7 linked regions of the Homo sapiens genome follow. The protein of the gene in region 4 purifies or fractionates together with the protein of the main gene of each other region. This does not show direct contact. Each region holds a gene or a part of one and is shown on either strand. Other genes may lie near its edges.

Evidence for each region.
Region 1: the proteins of AP1G1 (region 4) and NECAP2 purify together in Homo sapiens (affinity purification with mass spectrometry; 3 studies listed by BioGRID and IntAct, with this or other methods). This does not show direct contact.
Region 2: the proteins of AP1G1 (region 4) and UBA1 fractionate together in Homo sapiens (co-fractionation; 2 studies listed by BioGRID). This does not show direct contact.
Region 3: the proteins of AP1G1 (region 4) and MYRF fractionate together in Homo sapiens (co-fractionation; one large-scale study listed by BioGRID). This does not show direct contact.
Region 5: the proteins of AP1G1 (region 4) and CAP2 fractionate together in Homo sapiens (co-fractionation; one large-scale study listed by BioGRID). This does not show direct contact.
Region 6: the proteins of AP1G1 (region 4) and PLEKHA7 purify together in Homo sapiens (co-immunoprecipitation; one large-scale study listed by IntAct). This does not show direct contact.
Region 7: the proteins of AP1G1 (region 4) and OSBPL11 fractionate together in Homo sapiens (co-fractionation; one large-scale study listed by BioGRID). This does not show direct contact.

Annotation. Positions count from the first base shown.
Region 1 is NC_000001.11:16,450,724-16,454,223, forward strand, and holds part of NECAP2 (adaptin ear-binding coat-associated protein 2), read left to right. Parts: intron 1-1,114; coding exon 1,115-1,292; intron 1,293-3,500. UniProt on the Homo sapiens protein: Involved in endocytosis.
Region 2 is NC_000023.11:47,213,229-47,215,628, forward strand, and holds the end of UBA1 (ubiquitin-like modifier-activating enzyme 1), read left to right. Parts: intron 1-1,098; coding exon 1,099-1,200; intron 1,201-1,308; coding exon 1,309-1,409; intron 1,410-1,565; coding exon 1,566-1,701; 3' UTR 1,702-1,900; downstream 1,901-2,400. UniProt on the Homo sapiens protein: Catalyzes the first step in ubiquitin conjugation to mark cellular proteins for degradation through the ubiquitin-proteasome system.
Region 3 is NC_000011.10:61,769,636-61,773,135, reverse strand, and holds part of MYRF (myelin regulatory factor isoform 2 precursor), read right to left. Parts: intron 2,891-3,500; coding exon 2,611-2,890; intron 1,637-2,610; coding exon 1,386-1,636; intron 1,308-1,385; coding exon 1,184-1,307; intron 1-1,183.
Region 4 is NC_000016.10:71,728,835-71,732,334, forward strand, and holds the end of AP1G1 (AP-1 complex subunit gamma-1), read right to left. Parts: 3' UTR 166-3,500; downstream 1-165. UniProt on the Homo sapiens protein: Subunit of clathrin-associated adaptor protein complex 1 that plays a role in protein sorting in the late-Golgi/trans-Golgi network (TGN) and/or endosomes.
Region 5 is NC_000006.12:17,540,095-17,543,594, reverse strand, and holds part of CAP2 (adenylyl cyclase-associated protein 2), read right to left. Parts: intron 2,623-3,500; coding exon 2,447-2,622; intron 759-2,446; coding exon 635-758; intron 535-634; coding exon 452-534; intron 1-451. UniProt on the Homo sapiens protein: Involved in the regulation of actin polymerization.
Region 6 is NC_000011.10:17,004,415-17,007,914, reverse strand, and holds part of PLEKHA7 (pleckstrin homology domain-containing family A member 7), read left to right. Parts: intron 1-3,500. UniProt on the Homo sapiens protein: Required for zonula adherens biogenesis and maintenance. Acts via its interaction with CAMSAP3, which anchors microtubules at their minus-ends to zonula adherens, leading to the recruitment of KIFC3 kinesin to the junctional site.
Region 7 is NC_000003.12:125,578,498-125,581,997, reverse strand, and holds part of OSBPL11 (oxysterol-binding protein-related protein 11), read left to right. Parts: intron 1-1,957; coding exon 1,958-2,133; intron 2,134-2,958; coding exon 2,959-3,038; intron 3,039-3,500. UniProt on the Homo sapiens protein: Plays a role in regulating ADIPOQ and FABP4 levels in differentiating adipocytes and is also involved in regulation of adipocyte triglyceride storage. Weakly binds 25-hydroxycholesterol. Interacts with OSBPL9 to function as lipid transfer proteins.

The sequences.
Region 1 (3,500 bases), on a different chromosome or scaffold from region 4:
GATCACCTGAGGTCGGGAGTCCGAGACCAGCCTGACCAACATGGACAAACCCTGTCTCTACTAAAAATACAAAATTAGCCGGGCATGGTGGTCCATGGCTGTAATCCCAGCTACTCCGGGGGCTGAGGCAGGAGAATTGGCTTGAACCTGGGAGGTGGAGGTTGCAGTGAGCTGAGATCGAGCCATTCATTGCACTCCAGCCTGGACAACAAGAGCGAAACTCTGGCTCAAAAAACAAAACAAAACAAAACACCCAATTTATAAACTTGCACCTTGCTCAAGATGCAAAAGATTGTCAGCACTCTGGAAACACCTCTCCTGGCCCCTCCCAGTAACTGCCCTGAGTAACCCCATCCTGACTTCACATACCCTAGATTTTGTTTGTTCTTAACTTTCATGAATTGAATCATACACCTAATCTTGATTTGGAATGATTTCTTTCTTTTACTCAATGTAATTTTTGTGAGAGTCATCCATGGTGTTGCGTGTAGTTTGTTCATTCTCATTGTTGTGGCATGTACCATTGTGAGAATTCACCCGATTTATTTATGTTTTACTGATGATGGACATTTGGGTAGTTTCCAGTTTGGGGCGATTACAAATAATGCTGCTGTAGATGTTTGAGTTCATGTTTTTGGTGCATATATGTATGATTTCTGTTGGTTTATATCTAGGAGTGGAACTGCGGAGTCATAAGTTTAAGTTCCTATGTTGAGCTTTATAATCCTTTCAAATAATTTTTCAAAGTAGTTTTACCAGTTTACACTTAAGCCAGCAGCGCGTGAATGGTTACTTCATATCGTAGTCAATACTTGATAATCTACATTTTAGCCATTCTGGTGAGCGTGTAATGGTATATCATTATAGCTTTGATCTGCATTTCCCTGATGAATGAAGTGGGGGTGCTGGGTTTTAAAATGGACCTTATTTGTGAGAGATTCAGAATGATGATGCACTAAGTATAGCTCATAGCAATGGAGGTGCTAGGTAGGACCATCTTTTGGTTACACAGATGTTGGGGGTCTGGGGTCACCTTGGCCCTCCTTGTGGGGTTTTCTGGTAGCATTGGGACTCCAGCAGAACGGGCTGATTTGCATTCCTCTTCCCTCTTTAGAACATGAAGAAGAAGGAAGGAGCAGCTGGGAATCCCCGAGTCCGGCCTGCCAGCACAGGAGGGCTGAGCCTGCTTCCCCCTCCCCCAGGGGGGAAAACCTCCACCCTGATCCCTCCCCCTGGGGAGCAGTTGGCTGTGGGGGGATCCCTCGTCCAGCCAGCAGTTGCTCCCAGTTCAGGTTAGTGCTCAGTGGGTGACTGCTGCATCAGTACCTGCCGGCTCCTCTTCTCCCTGGCAGCCAGGCCCCATGGTTTCCCCCCCGTTACACACATGGATTGGTCATGTAGTACCTGTCCGTGTCAAAGAAGGCGGGCACCCAAAGCTCATTCTGCACACGCTGGGTAAGGGGCTCCTCCTACTTGGCCTTTAGGGCGTCTGCCCTCCCCTGAGAGGCCAGGGCTGCGACTTGTTAGTTACTGTGAAATCATCAACATGTCGGTTCCTGGTTCCCAGTGTCTGCTCAGTGGGTATTGAGTGAGTGGGTAATGGAGACACAGTCTCTGCTCACGTGTAGTGAGAGAGATGAGTCACAGCACAGAGACCAAATGTGTAGGGCCTAGACCCACCATCAGCTGCTGTGATCTGGAGAGGTTTCATGAAAGAGGTGACATTGATCTGGACCTTGAAGGAAGGAGATAGAGTGGGAGTGGTTGGCATTCCAGGCAGAGAGAAGAACACGAATGAGGCCCAGACTTTTAGACACCTGGTGTATTTAGGGAGATGGGTACAGCATAAGGTGTGCCAAGGTGAGTGGTGGGAAATGAGATTTCGTTTGGAGTGAGCACCTCGGGTGTGGGAATCTGAGAGCATTTGCCCTGGCAGTTTGTGCTGAGGAGCCCTTAGGAGACCCTGGGATTCCGGAAGCGAGTGTCTAGTGTCAGCTTCTGACCACGCTGGGGTGCCAGCCCTTTTCCTCTACCTCCCCGCGCGCCCCCCCCGCCCGCCGCCCCGCCCAGCCCAGCTTGATGCTCCTGGCCTTCCCCAGGCTGGGCGATTGTCACCAGCGTGCCTTCTGCACACAGCTCTCCCCAGCTTGCAGGCAGGAAGCCTTCCTGCTTTACTGATTCCTAAGCCTCCCCAACATTGGCTGCCCTATCTGGAGGTCAAGCTTCAGACTTCAGTCCTGTGGGGAGAGTGGCAGGAGGGGCAGTCAGAGAGCCCCGGCCCGGTACCAGGAACTGTTCTTTAAGTGCTATTTCTCAGAGTGGGGTCATAGGACCACTTGCTTTGGCATCGCTGGGGGATGGGGGCAAGAATCTGCATTCTTGTGTCTTTTTTTTTTTTTTGAAATGGAGTTTTTTTGCTCTTGTTGCCTAGGCTGCAGTGTAATGGTGTGATCTCGGCTCACTGCAACCTCTGCCTCCTGGGTTCAAGTGATTCTCCTGCCTCAGCCTCCTGAGTAGCTGGGATTACAGGCATGTGCCTCCACACCCAGCTAATTTTGTAATTTTAGTAGAGACAGGGTTTCTCCATGTTGGTCAGGCTGGTCTTGAACTCCCAACCTCAGGTGATCCGCCCGCCTCAGCCTCCCAAAGTGCTAGGACTACAGGCGTGAGCTACTGCACCCGGCCCTTATGTTTGTTCTTGTTTGTGTGTTGACTAAAGTCTGAGAGCTACTACCTTAGGCCTTCCTAAGCAACCAAGGTTGCTGATGGATATTTATTTATTTAAGATGGAGTCTTGCTCTGTCACCCAGGCTGGAGAGCAGTGGCATGTTCTCGGCTCACCGCAACCTCCACCTCCTGGGTTCAAGTGATTCTTCTGCTTCAGCCTCCTGAGTAGCTGAGATTACAGGCACGCACCACCACGCCCAGCTAAGTTTTGTATTTTTAGTAGAGACAGGGTTTCACTGTGTTGGCCAGGATGGTCTCGATCTCCTGACCTCGTGATCTGCCCGCCTCAGCCTCCCAAAGTGCTGGGATTACAGGCATGAGCCACCGTGCCTGGCCTTGCTGATGCATTTTTAACAGCATTTTAATTTTAATATGGTGCACTTGCTGTGTGCCAGGTAGAGTTCTAGGCACTGGTACGTATAGCATCCAGTTTCAGCTCTCAAGGGCTTGTTTTCTGGTGTCTGAGACAGGCAGTTAGCATGTCAACAAACAAAATGGTGTCAGATAATAAGTCATGAATATCAACATTTATGAAGCACTTACTATATGAACAATATGGTTGGGTTCAAATTTCAGCTTACTAGCTTTGTGATATTTATTTATTTATTTTTATTTTTTATTTTTGAGATGGAGTTTTTTGCTCTTGTTGCCCAGGCTGGAGTGTGATGGCGCAATCTCGGCTTACCACAACCTCTGCTTCCTGGGTTCAAGCGACTCTCCTGCCTCAGCCTCCCAAGTAGCTGGGATTACAGGCATGCGCCACCTCACGTGGC
Region 2 (2,400 bases), on a different chromosome or scaffold from region 4:
AGATCTGGTTCTGATTCACGTCATACCCTGTCACCAGGTGAGGGTTTCTGTCTGTGTACCTACCCTTTTTGTGTATCCTTTTTCACTTATTCATTAATCACATTATTTGAGTACGTGCGAAAAGATGGGATATTTGAATTGTGCCCTGGGAGATTATTAGTAACTACACAATAATGGCAGCCAAAATTTATTGGACGCTTCCTACACTTAAGTGCTTTGCTTGCTTCATTAATGAATTCACTCAAATATTTATTGAGCACCTTTTGTGTGCAGGGACTCTTCTAAGTTATGTTCCTCAAGTAGATTATATAAATAACCTATTAAATGATTTTGGAATCAAAAAAGGATAAAAAGAGGCCGGGCGTGGTGGCTTACGCCTGTAATCCCAGCACTTTGGGAGGCCGAGGCACGTGGTTCACCTGAAGTCAGGAGTTTGAGACCAGCCTGGCCAACATGATGAAACCCTGTCTCTACTAAAAATACAAAAAATTAGCCAGGCGTAGTGGTAGGCACCTGTAATCCCAGCTACTCGGGAGGCTGAGGCAAGAGAATCACTTGAACCCGGGAGGCGGAGGTTGCAGTGAGCCAAGATGGCGCCATTGCACTCCCGCCTGGGTGACAGAGCGAGACTGCATCTCAAAAAAAAAAAAAGATAAAGAGGACTTGAGAATACCAGGGGGCGAGGGGATGTATTTGAGATTTTGTGTAGGATGGTCAGAAAAGGCCTTGCTGAAAAGATGACATTTGAGATCAGACTTGGAGGATGTAAGGGGACAAACTGTGCAGGCTTGGTGGCGAGTGGGGACACATTCCAGGCAGAGGGACCAGTTCTTGAAAGGGTACCAAGATAGGGGTGTGCCTGGCAAGTTGGAGGAATTCAAAGTCCCCAGAGTGAGTGTGAGATTGAGGAGGGTAGGAGATGAGAAGAAAACAGAATTTCATTGCTTAGGGTGAGATAGGAACCACAAGAGGATTTCGAACAAAAGAGGGTTGTGATCTGACTAAACACGTCTGCATGGGGGTAGGGGGGATGGAGACAGATGGGGGCTGGACCCTCTGGGATGGTCTCCATCTTACACTCCCCTCTTTGTCTTGCAGTACTATAACCAAGAGTGGACATTGTGGGATCGCTTTGAGGTACAAGGGCTGCAGCCTAATGGTGAGGAGATGACCCTCAAACAGTTCCTCGACTATTTTAAGGTAAGGCCCCTCCCTTACTCTGTCACCCCACCTCAGGGGGCGAGGTGTACACGGTGACTTGCTGGCCTGTCCACCTCCATGACCCTGCTGTTCCCCCTCCCTCTCCAGACAGAGCACAAATTAGAGATCACCATGCTGTCCCAGGGCGTGTCCATGCTCTATTCCTTCTTCATGCCAGCTGCCAAGCTCAAGGAACGGTTGGATCAGCCGTGAGTTGGACACTGGCCAGGCTAGGGGAGGCCCTGTATGGGTTGGGGAGCCTCATCATCCAGCTGTCCCACTCCAGTTCACTGCCCCTACCTACCTGCCCATCCTCTCTTGCTTTCTGCCCTCCTGACCCTATACTCCCATCCCCCTATCCCCAGGATGACAGAGATTGTGAGCCGTGTGTCGAAGCGAAAGCTGGGCCGCCACGTGCGGGCGCTGGTGCTTGAGCTGTGCTGTAACGACGAGAGCGGCGAGGATGTCGAGGTTCCCTATGTCCGATACACCATCCGCTGACCCCGTCTGCTCCTCTAGGCTGGCCCCTTGTCCACCCCTCTCCACACCCCTTCCAGCCCAGGGTTCCCATTTGGCTTCTGGCAGTGGCCCAACTAGCCAAGTCTGGTGTTCCCTCATCATCCCCCTACCTGAACCCCTCTTGCCACTGCCTTCTACCTTGTTTGAAACCTGAATCCTAATAAAGAATTAATAACTCCCACATCGCCTGCCCTGCTGGTTCCAGGGAAGGAAGGGACTTCCTGGAGCTGTCTGGTTCAGATGATAACTCAGAGGGCTCAACCCCACCACACCTGCCAGTTTTCTGGACAAAGAAAATGTAATTGCCACCTCTTCCTGCCCTCTCTGCCTAGGAAGAGATGGAGGCACCAGTGAGGCCATAGTGAGCAGGTACTTGGGTCCATGTGACTGTTAATTTGAGCTGGGTTCAATTCTCACCTTCTCCATGTCCTAACTCCTTGCTCTGTGAAGAGGAAAGTTACGGTGACCAGGCTGCTAGGGCATGGCCAGCGTGCCTTATGTCCTTAGGGCAGATCCCCTCCCACCTGGCTCAAAGCACTCAGACCCTGGGCAGCCTTTTGTGGTCATGGTTCCCAGCACCAGGAATGCCTGTGCTGCTCTTAGTTCAATTTCCTTGCTGCAGGGGTGTCTTAAACAGCTCTGCCGAATGCCAGTGCCTGCAGGCATACTTCGTGATTTTTA
Region 3 (3,500 bases), on a different chromosome or scaffold from region 4:
TACTTGGGAGGCTGAGGCAGGAGAATTGCTTGAACCCAGGAGGCGGAGGTTGCAGTGAGCAGAGATCATGCCATTGCACTCCAGCCTGGGCAACAGAGCAAGACCCTGTCTCAAAAAAAAAAAAAAAAAAAGAGCAACTGTTGGCCTGTGGCTTAGCGCACCCTCACTCAGGTCCCCAGGCACAAGAGTGGTCACAGGAGTGCCCAGTGCTGGCCTGGCGGAAGCTGGGCAGGGAGAATGCTTCCAAACTTGTGGGAAGAGGCCTCTGGGCCTGGCCAGTGTTGCCAAAGGCCTGGGCTCACCACCTCTTCCCTCCTGGAGCTCCACCCACCTGCCTGACCTAGCAAAGCACCCAGGAAGTGCCTGGGCCACTTCCGGGGCTGCAGCTGCCAAGCTTCCTGGCCTTGGGGCCTGGGGTGGCAAGGGTGGCCCAAAGAGTATGGCAGTAAGAGTAAGGGGTTTCCTCCCCATGCCAGAGAGGCTGGAGTGCCATACGACTGCACCCCCACCTGGCAGGACTTCATGGGACCCTTCAGCCACCCCAGCAGCCAGATGCCCCCAGGCCTGGGACTGCTGGCTAAGAATTCCCCCAAAGCCTGGAGCACCCAACTCCATGCAGCTGGTCTAATCCACTGGCCCAGGCCTGGCAATATCCACAGTTACCCTGTCACCTGCCCACTGGCCTTCTGGGTGAGCCAGGGGAGTGGTCCCCACAGGGCTCCCGGCCTGCGGCCTGGAAAGATGGAGCCATCTGGGTGTTGAGGGGGTGCTAGGAATGCTCAGGCAGCCTCTGACCGGATCCTCCCCAGCCCCTCCTCCCTCCCTCTAGGGAGGGGGCTGCCGGGAGGGCCCAGCTTGGGCTCAGCTTCCGGCTACCTTCCTGGAATGCAGAGGGAGGAGGTGGGGAAGGAGGAACCGGGGGAAAAAACACCCATCTGCCCACTTCTCCCTGACTTGGTTCCCAGCTGCCCCTCCCTGGCAGTCATCACCTTCTCAGGGAGGCCTGGGGCTGGCCTAGGAGTCAGGAGCCCTGACTGCCAGTCCTGGCTCTTCCCTGAGCCTGTTTGCTCTTCTGTGAAATGAGTGCTCCCAGGCCCTGCTCCAGGACCTTGATGGGGTCCTGGGCTGGGGCGTCCCAAGGTGGGGGGGCCTGGAGGAGTGGGGAGTGTTGTAGGGCACTCACAGCTCCTTGTAGTTAGCATCGTACAGGGTCGCCCACTTGTTCTGCTGATGAGGCTGCCACTTGATGGACTGGTAGTTGGGGTCCAGGTAGGAGCCACTGAGGCTGTCACTGTCCTGCAGGAGGCCTGGAGGGAGGGAACGCCCATGTGGGCCCTGCACCTTGGGTCCCACACCCCACCTTGAAGAGTTGGCCAGCCATGTACCTGGGGAGGGGGCACCTGGCGGGTGCCAAGGCGGTGTCTGGACACGGGCAATGCTGAGAGGCAAGGAACCAGGGCCCGGGGAGAGCGGACCCTGGGGAGGCCAGGGTGGCGATGGGGCTCGAGTGGGGTGCAGAGGCAGGGCTGTCACGGTCCCAGGCTCCTGTTTGATCATTCCATTCAGCATCTGGGCATTGAGGGTGCTGGGGGGGGATTCAGAGTGCTTCCTCTTCTTGGAGGGGTGTGTAGGGAGCCTGGGGAAACAGAAGTGTGCGCCGTGGGGGCTGGCTCTCCCCGAGCCCCTCCCACTGGGTAGTATCCACCTCTCTCCCCTCTCTAGCCTGTTTGGGCCAGGATGTGCCCCGCCCAGAGGACACCTCCTTCAGGAAGCCCTCAGGCTTTGCCTCCTCCTACTCCCCATTGCTCTGTGCTGTCATTTTCTGCTTCTGTCACTCTTCGCTTCCCCCAGACTGTGGACAGGAGCCACACCTGACTTGGTGTCTCCATCATGCCCAGCAACAGGGCTGGCTTACAGAATCACAGCAATCGCTTGAGGAATGAATGAGTTTGTCCCTGCCTGCAGTGTCACACTCAAGGTCACCCTTTATAGTGGGGGCTCTATGGAGAGCAGGCCCTGTGATCAGAAACAAGCCACAGAGGGCCTGGGCCACAAAAACCAGGGAAGGGGAGCTTCCGCACGGCACTCCTTCCCCTTCTGGTTTACAAAATGTTTTGACAGCAGAACCTTCCTTTGAACTAAACCTTTCATGGAATCTCCACATGTAAAACAGATGAAAAGACAATCGTGCAGGTTGAGTCAGAGTCGGGGGCTTGGGTCTAGGAAGAAGACTCCTCAGAAACCTGAGGGTTCCATGAGACAGCTGCAAAATCACTGGGGTCTGGGTAAGAGCACAGCCCCGGGCCCAGTCCTGGCTCTGCCCCTGGCTCATGATCTGGACGGGACATTTCCCCCATCAGAGCCTCAGTTTACCTACCTGTGCCCACCAGATAAGGTAGTTGTGAGCAATTAGCCATGGCTGTAAACCCCTCAAGGTATTGCTGGGTAAACATGTATAAATATGTTACCCCCATCTGCCCTGCAGAGCCTTCTGCCCTCCCTGGGTGCATCCCGGTCCCTACCTCCCTCTCTGGCCTGCCCGCCGCCCTGCCCACCCTGGTCCCTGTACCCCACCTTCCCACCCCATGGAGCCAGCCACCCACGTCTTACTCAGCTCCGTGCTGCTGCAGGAGCTGGTGCAGCATCTGGGACTGCTGGGTGTGGTGAAGATCAGTGGGCACCAGCCCCTGCCCCATGGCAGCGTAGTGGGGGATCGGGGGCTCGGCCTTCATGTACAGATCCCGCTGCAGGACAGGGTAGTGAGGTGGGGGTGGTGGGGGTGGCGGGGGGCCTGGCAAGTGGGCTGGAGGTGGGGGCGGATGCTCCAGGCGGGAGGGCACTCCCACGTGGCACAGTGTCTCAGGGGTTATCGTGCGCAGGAGGTGGGGCTCTGCAGGAGAGATGGGGGAGCGGGCATCTGAGACCAACCTCACTCAGGCTCCTGGGCACTGTCCTCCCCAAGGCAGAGTCTCCTGCTTCCACCCCGTCCTGAGCCAAGCCCGGGGGCTGCCCCCCACCTACCCTAGGTGGGAGGGCCGTTGGTCAGCCACCTACTAGAGGCCTGGGCAGGGAGGCACAAACCTGCCCAAGGAGGGGCAGCCTTTCACCTCATCCTAGCCACCTCCTGCCCCCAGGCTGGACCAGGAGAATCCAACCCAAATCTAAAGGTCCCCCTCCGTCCCCATCTCCTCTGAGGCCTGCTCCTCCTCTGGGCCTCAGGAAGGCGTCTCCGGAGACCCCCAGCCCAGGCCTGCCCAGTGTTCCCCTCTCCGGCAGGCAGTCCCTCTTCTGGGCTCTCAGGGGCCAGCCCCCCAGCCTGAGCGGGGAGGCCCCAGCTCCCTTTGTTCCCCAGGAGGCATTCCAGGGATGTTTTTGGTAAGATAAACAGAACTCTTGACCCCAATCCGGACTGCGGGGAGCCTGCTCCCGCGGTGGTTCTGCTCTTGGCCACCTGGGGGCCAGGGCACCCCTGAGCACCCTCTAAGGTGAGGTGGGCCCGG
Region 4 (3,500 bases):
GCGTGAGCCACCGCGCCTGGCTACAAGTTTTTAAGTGATTCAAATTCCTCTCTTGGTGAGACTTATGTGTGAAAGGAATACTAACAGGTCAGTAAGTTAGCTCAACCTCTGGAATAAGAATTCATCTAAGTCTTCTAATCCAATTGTAAGAAGCAAGGAAGCAAATTTTAAATCATTGGGTATTGACTTTTTATTATTAGTCACTGTTCATAATTTGTTTCAACCAAAAGACAGTACACACAGCAGAATTCTAATGCATCCCATGTAAATGTTTACATCCATTTTATTCCTCACTCGCCTCTAAGACTTATCATTTAACTTTAAATTTTTTTTTTTACATCTCAAAAATATGTCTGCAATAATTAGAGCTTCATTAGCTGTCCCACTTGGAAACAGCTTTTTAATATTTTTACAGTAAAGAAGATGTGATGGGGCATAATGAAAATGTAACTTACAACACTAAGAAAGAAAAGGGCCTTTATAGGAACACAGTGGGAGTTCATAAAGGAAAGAGTTCAGAAGCTCTTTCCCATGGGGCCCCCAAATGGAAAACAAAAACAAAACACACAAAGCGCAACCGCAGGTTCTTTGAGGGAAGAAAAAAAAAAAAAAAAAAACCAACTCCAAGGCTCCATCTTGAAGCCAGAATCAGCCTCTTGGAAGTCTGTAAAGCAACTGTGCAAGCTGCTTCGGCATTTCCTTCTGTTAAAGTGTTCCAGGTCCTGGAACCCTGTCGATGGGACCCACTCACTGATATTGCTTGAAAAAGTTATTCACTTCCAGTTCTACAAGCAGCCCCACTCTCCCGAGCCAAAGCTGGTCAAAAGTGTTTTAAACTTCAGGACTTTCTGTGCAATTCTCTCTCCAATGATCCTACCCACTCCCAAAGTCATGAATACACAGACATGTAAAACCACTCTCCCAACTACAAAGTTCATGAACACCCACTTTTTCCTCTCTAGTTTTCTCAGTTTAGGACACTGTGGTTAAAATACATTCACTAGAAAAAAATAGACACATTCAAACTCCTTTCCCCTAGTTCTCATGGCCCAAATATTTTCCAATGCAGAAGATAATGAAGTTGAACCTTGAAAGCAGTACTCCCTAACTTCCAATTTCTACGACATAAAAAAAATGGGAAGCATGTTATATAAACCATTAGTGTTGGACAGTTTTAAAAGTCTATTTTCATATATGAATGGGACAAACAAGGAGTACAAATCACACCTTTAAACTAGCAAGAGGAAAGAATCCCCTCCCAAATGTTACACTGAGGAATGTTTCTTTAAATGATAAAGACCTTAAAATTAACAGATGATCACTATGCACAGCCTAAAACTTCCGTGACTGTCCAAACCACCTCAAGGTAACAGCACCAAAGCACTGTGGGAGAAGCTTCTCAGGGAGAGCACCCTTCCTACAGTTTTTTGAGATTACTTAGATGAATTAATTCTCCTTTAGGATTCCCCGGGATGGGGCAGAAACTAGAATAGAAACGACTCTTGAAGAGGGAAATAATGAAGTACAAGTGCATGTGAAATTGTCAAAGTAAGTGTGTGAGGGCTCACTGCTTATCACCCCAGGGTTATCAAAACAGCCTTGGAAAATGCTCTTTCCTCACAATGCCTGTGAAGTCGTAAATCCATCCAAATTTGCTCCCCCTTGAGTGGTTATACTCGGGAAAGGAATTATTGAAATGTGCAAGTATTCAAAGAAATTGAAACATTTCTCCATTTAGCTGCAAGGCCAAGTGAGAGGAAAACTAATTCTGATCCTAGAAACTAAGGCACGCTGAAGCTTTCAAAGATCCAATCATTTGAAACAGTCTTCACAACCATCAGTATCCTAGGCAGTTATTTGGCTGCTAGTCCTTCAGTATGGTGCTTGTGTTCTGATTCCAAAATCAATTCATATTCTACGCAGCACCCTTTGTGTTAAGGCCATGATATTTTACTCCTTCTAGACAAAGCTATGAATGATCATAAACTCTACCTCGAAACTATGATCACCCAAGGAAATGCTCTGTCAGCAGAGTAGACCCTTCCCAGCTCCATTAGCTGACAGTGTCTTATAGCATGGTCTTGAACAGATTTCTTCAGAGATTCAACCCAGTTCAAATAAAAAAACCTGAGCTGGTTAGCTACAAATATAAGAGAGAAAATAAAGCCTCTACACAAAGAGGAATGTTAAGACAAATTCTATTCAAGAAATCCACCAACATTATGTTAATCCTATCATGTTTCACAGCATTAAGTATCCATCCAATGAAATCAGTCTGCAAAGAAACCCTTAAAGGCTATTTTTCATTGCACAGGCAGAGCAGTTGTCTGAAATATGCACTAGTCCACACTTACATTACTGAAAACTATGCAGGAGATATTATCCTGTTCTTGACTCAGTCAACCATTTACCCAGTGGAGTAAGTTTTAGCAGATCTTGCTCATACACACTAGTAAGACCAGAAACTTTCCCGTGGAGCCTTTAGTTCAACTCCAGTTTGTCAAATGTTAGGAATATTCCAGCATCTGATACAGAGCTAGATTTGACAAGACACTGAAGATTTTAAGTAAAGGCTTGGTGAAATGAAGGGGAAAAAAAGGGATATTTGTTTCCAGGTTTAAGATTGAAGCCATAGTAGTCATTATACTGTATTCAATACAGTAACAATTGCAAACATTGTAAGAGCAAGGTGGGCCTCACTTTTTCTTTCTTCAGTATATAAGACATGGCGCCTGAATACTTGAACATACATAGTACATTCAATGTGTACCACAGAGAGAGTCACCTCTACTTCATTCCAGCAACTCAATTTCAAAGTTTGATAACATATGGGTCCTTTCTAAAAAGCACTTGGCACTCTCACTAGTTTAAAAAGCTCAAGTCTTTGATGTGAATATTCATGAGATTCGTCTTTTAAAAGAGACCAATTTCTCAGACTGAGGAAAGGCTATTCCTACCCTATGGTGTCCGTAAGACCTCCTCTGACATAGGGGTATGGAAGCTACAAGGCTTCACTCCAACACCATAAAGTACAATATGGAAAGATTTCTTTAACCGTGTGGTCTTTATTTCAGTGCCAGTGTTACAGATACAACACAAATGTTCCAGTTAGAAGGAATTCAAACGGAATGCCAAGGTCCAAGCCAGGCTCAAGAAATAAAAAGGGAGGTTTGGAGTAATAGATAAGATGACTCCAATACTCACTCTTCCTAAGGGCAAAGGTACTTTTGATACAGAGTCTGATCTTTGAAACTGGTGAACTCCTCTTCCACCCATTACCATAGTTCAAACAGGCAAGTTATGGGCTTAGGAGCACTTTAAAATTTGTGGTGGGAATAGGGTCATTAATAACTATGAATATATCTTTTAGAAGGTGACCATTTTGCACTTTAAAGGGAATCAATTTTGAAAATCATGGAGACTATTCATGACTACAGCTAAAGAATGGCGAGAAAGGGGAGCTGGAAGAGCCTTGGAAGTTTCTATTACAAATAGAGCAC
Region 5 (3,500 bases), on a different chromosome or scaffold from region 4:
GGAGTGCAGTGGCGCGATCTTGGCTCGCTCACTGCAAGCTCCACCTCCTGGGTTCACGCCATTCTCCCGCCTCAGCCTCCAGAGTAGCTGGGACTACAGGCGCCTGCCACCATGCCCAGCTAATTTTGTTTTCGTATTTTTAGTAGAGACAGGGTTTCACTGTGTTAGCCAGGATGGTCTCAATCTCCTGACCTCGTGATCCGCCCACCTCGGCCTCCCAAAGTGCTAGGGTTACGGGCGTGAGCCACCGCGACTGGCTGCAAGGCTGCTTCTTGGAGGCAGAGTGGATGGTCTGTGCAAGGCCGCAGCTTACAGTGTGGTTGGAAAGGCTGCTTATTACAGCGTGGTTGGAAAGGCTGCTTACTACAGCGTGGTTGGAAAGGCTCTGCTTATTACAGCGTGGTTGGAAAGGCTCTGCTTATTACAGCATGGTTGGAAAGGCTCTGCTTACCTGGATTTGAATGTCCTGGGAGTTGATCACTTCCACAATGCCCACCACATTGTCAAACACCAGGCCGAGTTTTTTACAGTTGTCTGTGGGGAGAAAAAACACAACAAAAAACCAACTCCACTAAATACATACAGCTTGTTTATAAAACATCATAATAACCATAGAGCCATAATTCTGCCCTACCAATTATAATGGAGTTTACTTTCCCTTTTATCTGAATAGTTGATTTTTCGCATTTGAAAATGTAAGCCACTTGTTTCAGCTCAGTCTCTGAAATCACAAGGTCATTCCTGTCCTCTTGGTACTCCTAGAATTAAGACAAATACAAATATTAAACATCAGCATATATAAACAGAAACCACTGCACACTGAAATTAGTACGAGCTCAGCATGAAGTATGGCTTTGCAATATATTCTTTTGGAACCATCTCCTTATAGATGAAACCACAGGTCTTACTCTGTCATTGTTAGGATGGGAAAAACGGAACCACTTCTTGGAAGCAAGTCAGTATCTCTTTGTAAACATCAGGTATCAGGCACCCTAGCAGGTGGGAGGCTGGAGCAGGGATGTGAGAGCTTTTTGTTGAGGCCTTGATGCCAAGTCTGGACTTGATGATGCAGCAAAACCTGCTGTGTCAAACAGGAGTTGGGCAAACAGGCTGGTGAAGGGTCACAGCAGTGGTCTAAGCCCTTGTGTTTTCAAGGCGATGACAACTCTCCAGGGACTTTGGTCCTTCATCTTTAGGGAAGCCCTCCAGATCAGCAGGAGACACCAGCTTTCATTACCATTTGAAGTGTCTATGTCCTGCTCACACACTTAGCCCGGGCAGTGGGGGGTGGCAGCAGTAGGGTACAGAGGTATCAATCCCTCCATCCATGGGACTGAACGAAACATCTCACAGCACATCAGAGTGGGGCACAGACTTCCCAGTTCCATATATTAACGGTCTGTCTTGCTGCCTGATTAAAAGCTTATAGAAAGAATAGCTAAATTCATAGAGACAGAAAGTAGAATGGTAATTGCCAGGGGCTGGGAGGGGTGCAGGGGGAGAAACAGGGAGCTATTGGTTAAGGGTACAGATTTTTGGTTCTGCAAGATGAAAAGAGTTCTGTAGTGGGTGGTGGTGATGGCAGCACAACCATATGAACAGACTTAATGCCACTGAGCTGGACAGTTAAACATGGTGAACAGTCCATTTTATGCTACGTCTATTTTACCACCACTCACAAAATAATTTAAAAAGTTGAAGAAAAGAATGCATGAGAACCTGTGAAAATAAAGTTTATGGAAGCATTCAGAAACACCCTGGTTTCTACTCTAGCCAGTGGTTTTTGCCTCTGTCACTTCACCTTGGTGGTTAATGGGTACGAACATATAGTCAGAAGGAATAAATTCTAATTCGACAGCAGAGTAGGGTAAATATAGTTAACAACACTGTCTTAAATATTTCAAAATAGCTAGAAAAGAGGCCTTGAAATGCTTCCATCACATAGAAATGATAAATACTCAAGGTAATGGACACCCTAAATATCCTGACTTGATCATTACCCATTCTTTTTTTTTGAGACAGAGTCTCACTCTGTCACCCAGGCTGGAGTGCAGTGGCGTGATCTCGGCTCGCTGCAACCTCCACCTCTCGGGTTCAAGTGATTCTCCTGTCTCAGCCTCTCAAGTAGCTGGGATTACAGGCACGTGCCACCATGCCCGGCTAATTTTTGTATTTTTAGTAGAGATAGGGTTTCACCATGTTGGCCAGGCTGGTCTCGAACTCCTGACCTCAGGTGATCCTCCCACCTCAAACCCCCAAAGTGCCGATCATTACACATTCTACGCATGTAACAAAATATCACAGGTACCCCATAAATATATACAAATGTTATGTACCAATACAAAAATTAAAAAAAAGAAATCCTTCAGATCTTGGTAAATGGTTTGGCTGTTGGTCCTTTCATTGGCGCATGTCAGGAAAATAAAGGTTAAAATGCTTCACTTACCACTCTCCATTTCTTTCCTTCCAACTCCAACACTGGGGCATGTTTTTGAGAAGGATAAGATTTAGGAGATGTGGGACTTGGAGTGTGACTTTTGGTGGGAGATTGAGTTTGCCCTCCTTGAGCCCGCAGGCTGGGATTTTTGTATGTCTTCTGGTCATCTGTGACATGGCGGAGCCCTAGGAGGACAACACACATGGACACATTTATTTTATGCAAAGGGAAATGTCTCTAACTTGCTAGATCAACATGATGTAAATAAAGAGCACAAGAACTTTTGGTAAGGCCACTTTCAAAACAGTCTAGTGCTTTCTCCAAGTCAGGATGCAGGAGCTGAGTCCTGTACAAGTTGAGAGTTGACAGAAGCACTGTAAGTTGTTGTTGTTGTTGTTGTTTTTTAAATGGAGTCTCGCTCTGTCACCTAGGCTGGAGTGCAGTGGCGTGATCTCGGCTCACTGCAACCTCTGCCTCCTGGGTTCAAGCGATTCTCCTGCCTCAGCCTCCCAAGTAGCTGGGATTACAGGCATGCACCACCACACGCTTAGCTAATTTTTGTATTTTTAGTAGAGATGGGGTTTCACCATGTTGGCCACGCTGGTCTTTGAACTCCTGACCTCAGGTGATCCACCCTCCTTGGCCTCCCAAAGTGCTGGGATTACAGGCGTGAGCCACTGCACCAGCCAAGTATTTTTTTTTTTTTTTTTAATTTGAGGAACCTCTTCTGTTGGGAGATAAAATGATAGATAAAAATTCTGCAAAGAGCAAACCACCTCACGAAAAAGGATCATGTCTTACTTCTTCTCTTACGGCTAAATCATTCTCCAGACACAGCCTAAAAGGTTAGGGCATTCCAGTGAGTATATATCAGGATATGGAATTGACTTTACGAATCCATTCCTTTACTTTGCAAATGAGTTTCACAAGGCACAGCAGAACCAGTTGGAGCCAGAGAAAAATTTAGAATTTTGGATTCTTAGCTCCAAGCCCAGTATAGTGGGATATAATTCTTTGACAAGCCTGTACACTGCTTCAGGACAGAGGAGCTAATGTTTGCCAC
Region 6 (3,500 bases), on a different chromosome or scaffold from region 4:
TAAAAACTGCAATTACTTTTGCACCAACTGAATATCTTTAGGCCGGGCGTGGTGGTTCACACCCAGTAATCCCAGCACTTTGAATGGCCAAAGCAGGAGGATTGCTTGGGCTCAGGAATTTGAGACTAGCCTGGGCAACATGGTAAAACCCTATCTTTACAAAAAATACAAAACTTAGCCGGGTGTGATGGTGCATGGCCATAGTCCCAGCTATTAGGGAGGCTGAGGTGGGAGGATCACTTGAGCTTGGGAAGCGGAGGTTGCCGTGAACTGAGCTCACGCCACTGCACTCCAGCCTGGGCGACAGAATGAGACTCTGTCTCAAAAAAAAAAAAAAAAAGCATCTTTAGAGATCCTAAAATGTAAAATTTTGTTCTTCTGTAGTTTTTCCCTTGACTTGTCATTTAAAAAAAAATAAAATTGCTATTTATGGGCATGGTGGCGAGTGCCTGTAATCCCAGCTACTTGGGAGGCTGAGCCAGGAGGAACGCTTGAACCCAGGAGGTGAAGGTTGCGGTGAGCCAAGATTGCACCATTGCACTCCAGCCTAGGCAACAAGAGTAAAACTCTGTCTCAAAAAAAAAATTTTTTTTTCTATTTAATGTAATTCTACATAAAGAAAAATTAAGTTTAAATTATTAGCATAAATTTTATAGTTATTTCTATATTGTAGAATATAATGTTTTAAATGTGAATATCAGTGCATTTACCTCATATGCTAGGAGTTGCCACCACCATGCCCCACTCCAAGACACCATAGAGCACAAGCACCTGTATCCATGCCCCCCTGGGCAGCAGGGAGGAGCAGGGAGCCCAGGCAGGGCTTAGGGCTCCAGGAGGCTGGGAGTGGGCAGTTAAGAACCTGGTCCTCCGAGGCAGGGAGTGGGGACCAGGCATGAGTCCTTCAGAAGGTTACCTCTGGAGATAATGCCAAGTATCAAGGGTGTGTGTTTTGTATTCAGCAACCCATTTTTTAGTCTGAAATCAAAGGGAGTTGGAGAGTGAAGGATGAACCAAATGTGACAGATGTTCAGTTGGGGATTTTGTAGACACCAGGCCTAGAAGGCCCTTAGGAAAGCCAGTGAATACTGGACAGCCCAGGAGGCTGCCCTTAATTATGACCTCACCCAACCGACAGTCTTCTGGGCCACCCCTAGGAAGGAGTCTGTCCTGTCTTCTATATTTTCCTCCCTAGATAAATGTTGAACTTCATGGCAGTGAAATTTATCTTGTAGAATGTCAAACCTATTGATTCACTTATATATCATCTTCCTTTTTTTTTTTTTTTGAGACTGAGTCTTGCTGTGTCACCCAGGCTGGAGTGCAGTGGCGGCATCTCGGCTCACTGCACCTCTGCTTCCCGGGTTCAAGCGATTCTTCCACCTCAGCCTCCTGAGTAGCTGGGACTACAGGCATGCGCCACCATGCCTGGCTATTTTTTTGTATTTTTAGTACAGATGGGGTTTCACCATGTTAGCCAAGCTGGCCTTGAACTCCTAACCTCAGGCAATCCGCCTGCCTTGGCCTCCCAGAGTGCTAGGATTACAGGTGTGAGCCACCGTGCCTGGACGTTTTTTTTTTTTTTTTAGATGGAGTTTCATTCTTGTTGCCCAGGCTGGAGTGCAGTGGTGTGATCTCGGCTCACTGCAACCTCCGCTTCCCTTGTAGCTGGTGTTACAGGCGCCCACCACCATGCCCGGGTAATTTAGTAGAGACGGGGTTTCACATGTTGGTCAGGCTGGTCTTGAACTCCTGACCTCAGGCTGTCCACCCGCCTTGGCTTCCTAAAGTGCTGGGATTACAGGCATGAGCCACCATGCCCAGCCTTATTTGTCATCCTTCTTATTGAGATGTTGCTGGGAACAGCAGTCCCAGAAACTTTATTTCAAACCTGGGGGTAATAGTCCCACAAAGAATTTCTGGGAAACTAGCAGCTTACATATATACTAAAATAGAAATTCTGAACCCCCTCATTGAAGGTTAAGAAAGGTTTTCCCAGCTTGGCAAGTTTTGGCAGAATCCCATGCTTTATATTTCACTTCCTGGTTGCATTTTCAAGGGTAAAAACTGGTTCATGGATTTAAACGTTAGGTTCTGTGGGAAAGGAAAAACAGTGAGTGTTGTTTAGAAAGCGAAAGGAAGGATTAGGAGCCATGATTTATACCACATCTCCAAAAAGAAACTTCTTTAAGGAAACGTCTTTAAGAAAAATGGTTGCAAGTTGCTTTTTAAGGCTCTTTACCCATGAGAGGAGTGTGTTTTAGAGATAGGACAGATGCTGGGTTGGGAAGAGGTGTTTTCATGTGATGAGGGTGGGTGTAGGTTTCTTGTGCCTTGATGGCACCCTCTCCATTCTCTCTCTCTCTCTTTCTTTTTTTGTTTTGAGACAGAGTTTTGCTCTGTCACCTAGGCTAGACTGCAGTGGCATGATCTCAGCTCACTGCAACCTCTGCCTCCTGGGTTCAAGCAATTCTCTTGCCTCAGCCTCCTGGGTAGCTGGGATTACAGACACCCACCACCACGCCTGGCTAATTTTTGTATCTTTAGTAGAGACGGGGTTTCACCATGTTGGCCAGGCTGGTCTCAAACTCCTGACCTCAAGTAATCTGCCCACCTTGGCCTCCTGGAAGTGCTGGGATTACAGGCGTGGGCCACCGGGCCCAGCCTCCATTCTCTTTTGATGTCTATGGGAGTAAATTTGGTGCTTCCTAAATTGAGAACTTTGGAAAAAAATTAAGACAGCACTTTAAACAGAAACGTGTGCAGGGGCAGGGAGATGCCAGTTTACCCCCCCCGTTAAGTCTGAGGTGACAGAGGGCTGTAGGAAGACTGCTTGTTGGCTTTTCAGCCTCAATATGTGGAATATTTGGCAATTCAGTGAGGTACCTGCTCTTGTTTTCTATCTTCAGAGGACAGCACAGGTTTGAATCTCTTTGCTCAGTGTAAGACAGCATCATCTCAGCAAACTGGCAGGTATCTTAAGTAAATATTGGCAGAGGGAAAAACACGGAGGAATATGGTTGTATTTGCCTGTTGTTTTTAAATGGCTGTCAAAACATTTGCTTTTCAATTTTCTGAAATGAGAAATATTTTGAGTTAATGTTTTATCATTTACAGAGTATTTCACGAACATTCTCTGGTTTGTCCCATAATTATTGCATTTTTTTAGTGCGGGAATTTGGGCTCAGAGGGGTAAAGTGACTTCTCTAAAGTTGTATACTGGGCTGGGCATGGTGACTCATGCTTGTAATCCCAGCACTTTGGGAGGCCGAGGTGGGCAGATCACCTGAGGTCAGAAGTTTAAGACAAGCTTGGCCAATGTGGTGAAACCTCATCTCTACTAAAAATACAAAAATTAGCTGGGTATGGTGGTGCGTGCCTGTAATCCCAGCTACTCGGGAGGCTGAGGTAGGAGAATCACTTGAACCCAGGAGGCAGAGGTTACAGTGAACTGAGATTGCGCCATTGCACTCCAGCCTGGGCGACAAGAGTGAAACAGT
Region 7 (3,500 bases), on a different chromosome or scaffold from region 4:
TTAATTAATTAATTAATTATTTTTGAGACAGGGTCTTGCTCTGTTGCCCAGGCTGGAGTATAGTGGCATGATCTCAGCTCACTGTAACCTCCACCTCGGGCTGAAATCATCCTCCTGCCCCAGCCTCCTAAGTAGCTGGAGCTACAGGCATGCACCACCACACCCATCTAATTTCTGTATTTTTTTTTGTAAAGACAGGGTTTTGCCATGTTGGCCAGACTGGTCTCGAACTCCTGGATTCAAGCAATCTCAACTCATCCAGCCCTTTTTAGAGTTACTTTTTTTTTTTTTTTTTTTTTTTTGAGATGGAGTCTCACTCTGTCACCTAGGCTGCAGTGTAGTGGTGCAATCTCAGCTCACCGCAACCTCTGCCTCCAGGGTTCATGTGATTCTTCTGTCTCAGCCTCCCAAGTAGCTGGGATTACAGGTGCACGCCACCTCGCCCAGCTAGTTTTTTGTATTTTAGTAGAGACGGGGTTTCACCGTGTTGCCCAGCCTGGTCTCAAACTCCTAAGCTCAGGCAGTCCACCCGCCTTGGCCTCCCAAAGTGCTGGGATTACAGGTGTGTGCCACCGTGTCTGGCCTAGCGTTCCTTTTTTAAAAAGGGGCCAGATGAGGTGACTCACACCTGTAATCCAAGCACTTTGGGAGGCCGAGGCGGGAGGATCGCCTGAGTTCAGGAGTTTGAGATCAGTCTGGCCAACATGGCAAAACTCCATCTCTACGAAAAATACAAAAATTAGCTGGGCATGGTGGTGGGCGCCTGTAATCCCAGGTACTTGGGAGCTGAGGCATGAGAATCGCTTGAACCTGGGAGGCAGAGGTTGCAGTGAGTCAAGGTGGTGCCACTGCACTCCAGCCTGGGCAACAGAGCACGACTCCATCTCAAAAAAAAAAAAAATTATTACACTACTTAAATTGGAATTTCTGAAATGTATTTTTGAAAGTAGTTAATCTAGAACCAAATCAGAATTTTTTTTTCCAAAGTGTATTAGTATTTCATCAAATTCTTTTCCAGAGTGTATCAGCATTTCATCATTTAGTTTCAAGGTCCTTATGTTTCAGCATCTCCAATTGCAGCTTTTTCATTTTTAAACAGGAGAAGTAATCTTTAGTTTTGACTTATTTAATGATTCATTCACAAAATCTTTTTTACCCTGTTATTCTTGTTGTATATTTCACTAATTCTTAAATCACAATGCATATCTTGCCTAGTATATCTTGCCTTAACCTCAGAGCTCATATTTTGATTTATTTCCGGTGAATTTTAAAGAAAAATTTTCACTACCATTTGTCCTTTGGCAGTTTACCCTCTGTTAATGAATTCTGGGGAAAAATCTGTCTCTGAAAGGATATGGTATCTTTGCTTCCTTTTGTGCATTAACTGATAGGCCTCTTAATAAATGCCTCTCCCTCAGCTGAAGGGTTTATTATATCTTTTATTAAACTCATTCAATTTTTTTTTTTTTTTTTTTTTTTTTTTGAGACGGAGTTTTGCTCTTTTTGCCCAGGCTGGAGTGCAGTGGCTCGATCTTAGTGCAGTGCAACCGCTGCCTCCCAGATTCAAGCGATTTTCCTGCCTCAGCCTCCCGAGTAGCTGGGATTACAGGCATGCACCACCACACCTGGCTAATTTTGTATTTTTAGTAGAGATGGGGTTTCACCATGTTGGCCAGGCTGATCTCGAACTCCTGACCTCAGGTGATCCGCTCGCCTCTGCCTCCCAAAGTGCTGGGATTAGAGGCGTGAGCCACTGCGCCTGGCCTAACTCATTCGATTTTTAGTAATCTTCCCTGCTGGAAAATTCAGTGTAGTGTTTCCAGGTACCTCTTGAAATGCTTTTAAATTTTATTTTTAAGAGCAAAACCCTGAAATGTGTAAGTGATTGAAGTTTGCTTTGCTTTAGTTTGCTGAGGGAAAATGTTTACAAATTATGGATTTTAAAAAATCATTACAGGTTTTTTGTTTTAAACAATGAAGCTGGGCTGTTGGAGTACTTTGTGAATGAACAGTCTAGAAATCAGAAACCTAGAGGAACTTTGCAGCTTGCAGGAGCTGTAATATCACCCAGTGATGAGGATTCTCACACCTTCACTGTAAACGCTGCCAGTGGGGAACAATATAAACTCAGAGGTATGACCAAAATATGAGAATTAATACTGTGATTTTCCTCTTTTTTTGAGAAGTTGGTGTCTTACATGCTTTCATATGGGCTTTGGAAATAGAAACTGCTGTCATCAGTGATGTAAATACAATATTCTGAACCTTGGAACTGCTTTGAGAATTTATGAAATCTTTTGTAATAAGTAACTGTTTTCAAGTGGGACAATGTATGTTTGTTTAGGACTGGCCCCTCTGAAAAACGGTGTAGGTGAAACTCTGATTACTGAAAATCTAGAAACATAGACTTTAAATGATATTTTTTATGTATTTCACCCCTTTACTTGGTTTAGTTTACGTGCCCTTTTTGCAGTTTTCAGTAACTAATGTACATTATTGGGATTTATTATAATGTCATTCATTAAAATAACGTATAACTTCTGTTAAGATAAATTTAATTTGTGTAGAAGTTTTTTATTTAATGAATACACAAAGTATAATGGTAATCCTAAGTGAGCGTGCTCCTGCAGATCTGAAAGTATTGATTATACATCAAATAATTAAGGGGTTATTTCTTTAAATAAGAACCTATTTTTATGAGTTGCAACATGTCAGTCTCTCATCCTCACCTCACTGCATGTAATTTCTCCTTTTAATGAAGTAACTACATCCAGCTACTGTGTTCCCTAACAACGTTGGTGCTTTGGCCTCTTTCCTGCCTCCCTCCAGTCAGGGAAGTTTGCTCTAGTGAGAGTAAGACCAGTATCTGCTTTTCAGTGATCTGATCTTCATACTGTAGGCAATTAATTGTGTTCCAGAATAAATAAATATAAAATAATTTTTACATTCTTTTAACAGCTACAGATGCAAAAGAGCGACAGCACTGGGTTAGCAGACTTCAGATATGTACACAGCATCATACTGAAGCTATTGGAAAGGTATGTAGATTTATATACAATATTAATATACAAAAATGAGGAAGGAATATTTTTTATTTTTTGCCTTTTAAAATTGAGATACTATTCATATACCGTAAAATTCACCCTTTTAAAGTATATACGTATAATCCTGTGGTTTTTAGTATATTCACAAGGTGGTTCAACCATTGTAACTTTCTTTTTTTTTTTGAGACGGAGTCTCTCTCTGTGGCCCAGGCTAGAGTGCAGTGGCGCAATCTTGTCTCACTGCAACCTCTGCCTCCCGGGTTCAAGTGATTTTCCTGTCTCAGCCTCCCAAGTAGCTGGGACTACAGGCACACACCACCACACCCAGCTTATTTTTGTACTTTTAGTCAAGACAGGTTTCTTTACTAAAAAAAGTTGTTTCTTTACTAAAAATGTTGGCCAGGCTGGCCTCGAACTCCTGACCTCAAGTGATCCGCCCACCTTGGCTTCCCAAAG